Homo sapiens: one gene and its partner. The protein of the gene in region 2 interacts with the protein of the main gene of each other region in a biochemical or structural test. Each region holds a gene or a part of one and is shown on either strand. Other genes may lie near its edges.

Region 1 (3,582 bases), on a different chromosome or scaffold from region 2:
GAAATGCCAGAAGCCTTTGCTCATTTGCCCACCTAGTGGTAAGAGCTTCCTCCTTTGAAGGGTCTTAAAGCACTTTATACTGCTTTTTACTCAGATTAAATTATAATAAATTCAATTCAGTTTACATATTAAATGCATATATTTGGTGCAGGGGGAAACAGGAATTGAGAGACAGGAAAAGTCAAAAAGATTACACTAGAGTGGTTGGGCGCAGTGGCTCACACCTGTAATCCCAGCACTTTGGGAGGCCAAGGTGGGTGGATCAACTGAAGTCAGGAGTTCAGGACCAGCCTGGCCAACATGGTGACACCCCGTCTCTACTAAAAATACAAAAATTCGCTGGGCGTGGTGGCGGGCACCTGTAATCCCAACTACTTGGAAGGCTGAGCCAGGAGAATTGCTTGAACCTGGGAGGCAGAGGTTGCAGTGAGCAGAGATCGCGCCATTGCACTCCAGCCTGGGTGACAAGAGCAAAACTCCGTATCAAAAAAAAAAAAGAAAAAAAAGAAAAAGAAAATTACACTAGAGTAAGCAGCAGCACCAGAGCACGCACAGACCAGAAGCTGTGAGGAAAGGGGTGCGCTGGACAGGGACAGAGGGAGCCCCAGGTGGACGGACAGAAGATTTCGCCTTCTATTCTATTGACCTGTAGGCCAGGCTTCCCTGCGTCTCCAGATGGTGGCCCTCGTGAGTACATTTCCTCATATTTGCGTCCTAGACCACACCCAATAAATACAGTGACTTTTGCTCATACACTCAATGAGTTCATTAAACTGTCACTTCCCAATATTTGAAATGAGACAGCCCATAGCAGTCAAGATGAGAGAAAGGCAAAATTTGTGCCATTTATTTAGGAATTTCAGATAAATTGTCATAAAAGCAAATACTTTAAAAATTGGTTGTATTCATCCAAATTAAAGTTACAAAGGCAAATTTATTTTCCCACAGATCACTTTCAATTAGCGTTGAAACATTTAAATTCCTAAGAGGTGTATTTTAATAAATTATTTAGCTCAAAATGTTTAATGCTTTAAAAGCATCTATAATATGTGAAATTCTGTTCCAAATCAAACTGTCATTGTAACAGCACATTTGTTCCCAGAGTGTCATGATGACAAACTGGCCTAATATGGATTTATTTTTAAAAGAGCTTAAAAATGAAATCACAAATGATGTCATAAATTTCTTTCATGGCTCGAATACCCTGCTTCATTTATTTTATAGTAATTATGTTGCATTACAATTCAAGCAATTACATTAATTAGATCATTGATTCTTTGAATTAATCCCATTTTACAAATCTTGGTGAAAATTAATTAAGCCACAGACTCCCCACAGGTGCGGCTGTCAGGTAGCTCACATAAAGCTTTAGCACCAGTGTTCATGTGTGCCTGGGGGGTGTGTGGTGTCTGGGCGGAGAAGGAAAAAGGGAATTTCCTTTTTTCTTTTATGAACTTCACCAGATAAGAGTCATTAAATCATCTAATTATAATTATACACATTATAAGTTCATCTATTCCATTCTCAAATCTATGTAACTCCAGACATATGGACAATCTACCCATTTTTACAGATATCCAGGACTGTATGCAACAAGCTTAATAATGCATTCTGAAATGTAAAATAATGTCTGTTCATGGGTAAGAATTTCTTCTCTGTTGAATATAGTTCCAATCCTTACTGTGGCAGAATCATAGAATCATAGGATGTTAAAATTGAGAGATGGGTTAATGATCTCCCTGGATAATTCCTACTTTTTAAAGATGAGAAAACAAAAATATAGAGTTAAATTGGATGAAGTCGTACGACTACTTAGTGAAAGAGTCAGGATTATACCAATGCTATGAACTGGTGAGTGTTGTTCAATGTTATTTCCCTGAGAAAGCTCCTGTGCTCCTACAGATACGAGACTCAGAAACTGGGCCCTGTGGCTACGTCCTGGCTTACAGCCTCTCCAGGCACAATTCTGAAGAAGCGTATTTGAACTAGAACATTCTAAAGAGAAGATGGGGGAGGAAAACACCTAAGTCAGTATGCTGGCAACAAGACGAACAGCGATCAGCCTTGTGGTGATTAAAGGCACCAACTATAAAATGCACAGTCAATATTTGTTCCCAGGAATAAAACCTTAAAGTGGAAGTGAAATATGGCACAGATATGAATAAAATAAGGTAACAGACAACTAAAATGTCAGCTTGCTGGGAGTACCTTCCTCAGAACTAGTCCTGTGAGTCCCTTCTGGGAATGACACAGCAGCACGACGTTGCTTTTCTGTTTATCGCGATTATGTCTCTACTTCTCCCCATCTCCCACAGCCCCAGCTATCACCTCGGTGAGGACACTGCCTGTCTTAGATATCTTCTCCCTCCACCTTGAACAGTACCTGGCCGAGGGTTAATCGATGCACAGTGGGTTTATATTGTGTCAACTTCGCGAAGCTGAAAAGACTTTTCCTTGCACCGCTCCGGGTTAGTGTTCCCCACAAGAGGCAATTGCGTGAGATTTTGAAGGCGGAAGTGCAGCAGTAGCTTGCTCTCTGCCCTCAGTATGTCTGTGTCAAGTGCCAGACGCCACCACAAGCTCGGCACTCCGAGTCTCATCTGCTGCCCTGCAGGGGGTGGGTGACGGCAGTGTGCTCACAGCTTCTCCAGCTCCTGCTCACCTCCTCCTGGCTTGAGATTCGACCATCCTCCAGAGCTCCAGTCCCTCCTCCCAGGTTCTAGCTTCCCCTGCGTCCCCTCCTAACATCCAGCTTTCCTTCTTAAATCCGTGGACTTTAGACAGCAGCACCAGACACAGAAGCGAAAACCTCAAATACGCTATTTAATCAGCTCACACAACTGCTCTAGCAATTTTACTTCTTGGATTGATTGAACCCAGACTGATACAGAATTTGGTTCTGGAAGTGGACCAAGGAGAACCTTCAGGATGGTTTCTCTGTATTGGTTTTGGGTTACCTGCAGTCGATTCTGTAATAGGACTAGCTTTAAAGTATTAGAAATCCTATTTCCAGTAGTTAAGGGACACTGGTAGTCACGGCCTGCAGGGGCAAAAGAATTCCTTAAAAGACCACCTGGGCTGGGTGTGGCAGCTCACGCCTGTAATCCCAGCACTTTGGGAGGCCGAGGCGGGGGATCACGAGGTCACGAGATCAAGACCATCCTGGCCAACATGGTGAAACCCCATCTCTACTAAAAATACAAAAATTAGCTGGGCGTGGTGGTGCGCACCTGTAGTCCCAGCTACTAGGGAGGCTGAGGCAGGAGAATCGCTTGAACCCAGAAGGCGAAGGTTGCAGTGAGCTGAGATCGTGCCACTGCACTCCAGCCTGGCAACAGAGCAAGACTCCATTAAAAAAAAAAAAAAAAAAAAAGGCCACCTGTATTCACCTTCCAAGGTGAAAACAATGTCATTGCATCACCCTCCAACCACTAAGATGAAAAACAAAATATACCAACCATACAAAGGGTTGGACGTATTAAACCAACCCATTTCCTGAGTGACTCAAAAAGCTGTCAGTGTTGACTGGAGCCCAGAACAAGGCCCTGAAGGCTGCTCAGCCACCTGATCCATCTGATCCAA
Region 2 (5,252 bases):
TTATAAAAAATAAAATATTAATGCTTCCCCACCCAATTGCCACTATTGCTTTATCATGTGATGACTACTACGTCAGGAATTGGCACAAATGCTACCTTATTTAATCTATGTACATCATGCCCATTTTTTTCAGAAGTCTAACTAAGCTCAGAGAAGGCAAGTGACTTGCCTAAAGTCACAATGCAAGTAGAGCAGAAGCCAGGATTTAAACTTGCATCCTCTGTCTCCACAGTCCTGTGGTCTTTCCTCTATACAACAATAAGGTCATCCCTTGCATAAAATTTGAGCCAGAATGGAGTGCCTGAAAGATTCTCTAGCTCAAAACATTCATCTTTTAGATTAAAAAAATAAGTGTCAGGGTAGAAGTAGTACCCTTCTGAAGCATATGCAGAAGCTTACGGGCAGAGTTTGTACTCAAGGTCAGCTCCTGGTATCCCAAGTTCAGTTTTCTTTTTAATACATGCCTTCTCTCAAAAGTAAAACATAGGATCTTCACTTGCATACAGTGCTGCCAAATCTTTTCTTGAAACGGAGTGTTGTGACTCAACATGAAATTACATTTTAAAGAGTGTCACACCTACTGATAGGTGTGAATTTGCCGAATATCCAAAATATTTGACACAGAGGGGCACAGGTAGTTACGCTATCTACATGAGCCTTTTTTAAAAAAAGTAAAAAATCCTTATGGGACAAGTTCGATAGCTTTTACAAATTAAAAATAAAAATCCACAAACTAGTTTGATTTTCCAAACACTTCAAAGAAGTCTCTAGATGCACACTGATGTCAGGTGACAGGATTTCTGAATGCAGATGCTATGTTCAAAATAGAAGGGTAAAAAGCACTTTCCTGACTGGACAGCAGAGGGAGAAGGAGTAAGGACACACAATTGGAAGAGGGGAGCCAGACACAGAGAAGAACTGCCCTTTAAAAACCTGAGTGATCGACTGGCAAGCAGGGAGATGTTGATGAAGAGGAGATTTGTAAGCAAATCAGGACTGGTCCCGGCTACTTGGGAGTATGGATGAACACTGCACAGCAGCTCTAAGCCTGACTCAGGAAACTGTCTGACCCTGGACATTTACAAATGATATTTCAACCTTCAGCTCGATTTCCAGATGAGGGAAGGGGGATGGACTAAAACTACTAAAAATGAAATGTATTAGATCTTGACAAGAACAAATGTCAAAAACGAGCTCTAGAGATGAGGAATTAAAATGGGTGCTACAAACATAGCAGCCAGTTCTGTCCCAAAGTAAAAATGGCCCGTTCTTTAAAGCATAGAAAGCCACAACCTCACGACAGGAATTCCTGAGACTCATGGAACAGTGTAGATGAGTTTATCAGTCATCTTACTAGCAGTTACAAAATAAACTAGATTCATTAGAAAGAATCGGTAAAGTGGGCATTTACTTTCTCATTGAACCTAGCTGTTGTCTTGAAGCACCTTCATCAAGCCTTCTCATTACATCCCCACTATACAGAAGAGATGATTAAATGTCAGCCCTGATTCAAGCAACTAATGTATGGCAGAAACAGATATATTTATATGCCTTCCAGAAAGATTAATAGTATCTAGTGCTAGCCTGCCAACTGCAGATGTACAAACTTTCTATCCTATACATAAATCATACACAAGACATATGGTGTATTTTAAAGACTGCTGATGTCACAGTGATTTTAAATTACTCATGTTCTGAAATAAACCATGTAGATGTTGATGAATATGGCAATATATTCCGGATTTTTCATATAAATGTTATAAAATGTAACACCATTAATGAGAAGATGGCATTGGGAATTAAGAAGAGAGAATGCAAACATATTTAAAATCAAGGAGTATAGTCAGGTGTGGTGGCTCATGCCTGTAATCCTAGCACTTCGGGAGGCCGAGGCAGGTGGATCCCTTGAGCGCGGGAGTTCGAGACCAGCATGGGTAACATGGAGAAATCATTTCTACTGAAAATACAAAAATCAGCCGGGAGTGGTGGCATGCACCTATAGTCTCAGCTACTTGGGGGGCTAAGGCAGGAAGATCGCTTGAAACTAGGAGGTTGAGGCTGCAGTGAGCTGAGATGGCACCACTGCACTCCAGCCTGGGTGACAAAGTGAGACCCTGTCTCAAAAATAAAAATAAAAAATAAAATCAAGGAGTACGTTTCTATAATCAGTTGTTTGCTGGCTTAGGCGAATTCATTACAATATGGTTCTAATACATGTGTAAGTTAGTTGGCTATAATGAAACTTTATGTTTGGTCTCCTTAGAAGTGAATCTAATGGGATAATAAACCACATCAATAACAGAAATGAGAAAGAGGATAGATGAGTTAGGAGAACAAGGTGGTTTGTGTCTGTCAAATGAGCAGTGGCTGAATCAGAGGTGCACCTGATGTACCAAGAATTATTTGAAAGTTTCCAGGCTGTCAGCCTCAGTATTAAGCAACTATACAAAAATCAGTGTTATTCAGTTAAGTAGGGCAGAACATTGGACTGGAAACCACAGAGCCAGGGTGAACAGCTCAGAACTACTGTGGGGTGGCACCTTCCTACCTCACAGGGAAGTGACAAATATCAGTGGAGAGGCACGTGCAGGTATGAAAGTGCTTTGTGTATCACTGATTCTTCTATAAGTGCCAGGTTTCATCATCACCATCATCATTATTGTCATAATCGTTCTTATACCCAAGTCATTTCCTACTACATACATCTTGGCTACTGTTTAAAACCAGTTCTCTGAGCAGTCAAGTGATCTAGGTACAAGAAGAGACTTGAAAATTAGTTGGTGGAAATGACATTTTAAAAAAAATAAAATTTGCACAATGCCTTTTATAACTGCCTAAGCCAGGCTCATTGAGCATTTCAATTCACATAGACAGCTACTCTGTATTTTGGGTTTCCTTCAAATGACCCCAGCCATTCTGATCGCAGAACACACAGGTTCATGAAAACATGAGAATCTGGCTGCTGTGACACAAATGAGCTCTCCTGTTGCAACAAACCAAAAGGAAGTCAAAGTCTGGTTCTTGATCTCTTTTCAAAAGGCCTGAATATGTTGTTCATGAAACAAATCATGGTAGCAAGGATCAGGGAAACAGCCATTCTCAGGCCCACTGTGTAAAACTATCAGTCACGACTAATCACATATAAGTATATATTCCAGGAGCAAGACACTTCAATATGGTGGAAAGTATTGCTCAGTGTGACGTCCTGTGTTTTCTGGTGAGGCAGAGGGTGGGATACGGACTCAAGGAGAAAGGAGGAAGCTTAATGCCTCGAGATTTAGAATAACCCAGATCTCTGAGATCCTAAACTACTAAACGCGAGCATGTGGAGGGAAGTGTTTAATATGATTAGCAGACCTCTTGTTTCTGCCAAATAGAAATAATCACATACCTATTCACTTAATACCTATTCATTCATAAATACCTAAAAGGAGTCAGGTGTTGTGTTAAATGCTGGGGATAACAGCTGTCCACATGCACACATGGGCCCTGGCTTTATGGAGCTTTATATTCTAATGAAAGACAAATAATGAAAAATAAATAAAAGCATGAAATAACGTCTTGTGCTAAAAAGGTGATGATGATCAAGGTTATGAAAAACTGTGATAAAGATTATATGGAAGTGTTGGGAGCTACTTTAGATAAAGTGATGGGAGAAGCCCTCTCTCATAAGGAGACCTGAATGGGACTGAGCCAGCTGGGAAGAGCTGGGAAAGGACCATTCCAGGCAGAACGGACAGTAAATACAAAGGGCCTGAGGCAAGAAAAGGCTTGAAGCATTAAAGGAGCTCCATAAAAGCAGCCAGTGTGGCTAAAGCACCATCAGATGGAGGAGAGGAACATGAGACAAGTTTGGAGTGACCATAGCCACATTTTGCAGGCTATGCAGGCCAAGTTCAGGAGATTTAAAGGATAAAGGTTATTATTTTTTATATATATATAAAAAAACTTTTTAGAGAATGGGGTCTCAATATGTTGCCCAGTCTGGACTCAAATGCCTGGGCTCAAGTGATCTTCCTGCCTCAGCCTCTCAAGCAGCCAGGACTACAGGTGGGTACCACCACACCCAACTTAGGTTTTTAAATCTTAACATTTTAAAAAGGCAAAATCTGATTTCTGTTTTAAGGTATCATTCTAACTGCATATGTCTGTCATAATGTATAAACCACAATTTTTATGCTAAAGAGGTTAGTATTTGGAGAAATCAGTAGGCATTTTGAAACATTTAAATAAATTTAAAAAGCCCCCAGTGGTCATCTGAAGATGAGTAAGTTAAGCAATGAATTTGGGATAAAAAAAAAATTCAAAGAACAAAACAACCCTACTTACCTCCTCGTTGCACCAACAATGTGACCTCACTTCCCTTAGGACACTCAACCAGCATATCCACCACTTGGTTGTGAGTTAGGGCCTGCACGTTCTTCTTATTAACTTCCACTATGAGATCCCCTTCTTTCAGGCCTCGGCACCTTGGGCTGTCAACAATCTGTTTCACTCTTTGGCCACCCCCACCAGGACTGTCTGCGATAGTAAAACCAAAGCCCATTGGCCCTTTGACAATATGAACAGTTATGAGTTCTGGCTGAGTGGCTATGGAGGAAGCCAAAGAAACAGTGTCATTAGGATAACCATGAGAACTATTTGAAGCCACGTCCGCTGGGCTGCTTGGCCTGGCATCCTTCATGCCATTGACTTTGCCTGTTTTACTACTGTGGCTAGCTGGTGAATCATAGGTCTCTTGCCCATTCACAATAATTGGTTCTTTATCCAAAATGGCTACCGAGGTCACTAAACTTGTATTGGGGTCATCTGGATCAAAAGGCAATGGATAACCTCGGCAGAGTTCAAGGTCCACGCTGGCACCAATGGGGATGGACTGGAAGATCTTCACAACTTGAGCATGTGTGTGTCCCAAAACACAGGTGTCATTCACACTTACAATCACATCCCCTGTAGAAGGCAAGAGTGTGGGGGTTAAGAAAACAGCACCCAGAAAATTGTCATCAGTATTATAATATCTCCCACTAACATAAAGCTGAACTGAAACTGCATGTGGGTGTGATACTATAGGGTATAAAGTGCTTCTATTACTGATTTTAACAGCTAATAAAGTGTTCTTTCAGCACCTAGTGTCTTCCCTGCTAATGAGAATGTAATAATCACTCACAGAACATTGGAGCTTTCTCCTAAAAAAAAATCTCACTGCAGAAATCCAAGTTTAGAATTCATTTATTTAAATGGGGATCTACAGT

The links. Proteins that work in one complex are often made in the same cells at the same time.
Region 1: the proteins of MAGI1 (region 2) and MTNR1A interact in a test that uses a peptide from one of them, tested with the Homo sapiens proteins (one large-scale study listed by IntAct).

What each region holds. Positions count from the first base shown.
Region 1 is NC_000004.12:186,535,862-186,539,443, forward strand, and holds part of MTNR1A (melatonin receptor type 1A), read right to left. Parts: intron 2,851-3,582; exon of another isoform or gene 2,384-2,850; intron 1-2,383.
Region 2 is NC_000003.12:65,425,191-65,430,442, forward strand, and holds part of MAGI1 (membrane-associated guanylate kinase, WW and PDZ domain-containing protein 1), read right to left. Parts: intron 4,951-5,252; coding exon 4,330-4,950; intron 1-4,329. UniProt on the Homo sapiens protein: Plays a role in coupling actin fibers to cell junctions in endothelial cells, via its interaction with AMOTL2 and CDH5. May regulate acid-induced ASIC3 currents by modulating its expression at the cell surface.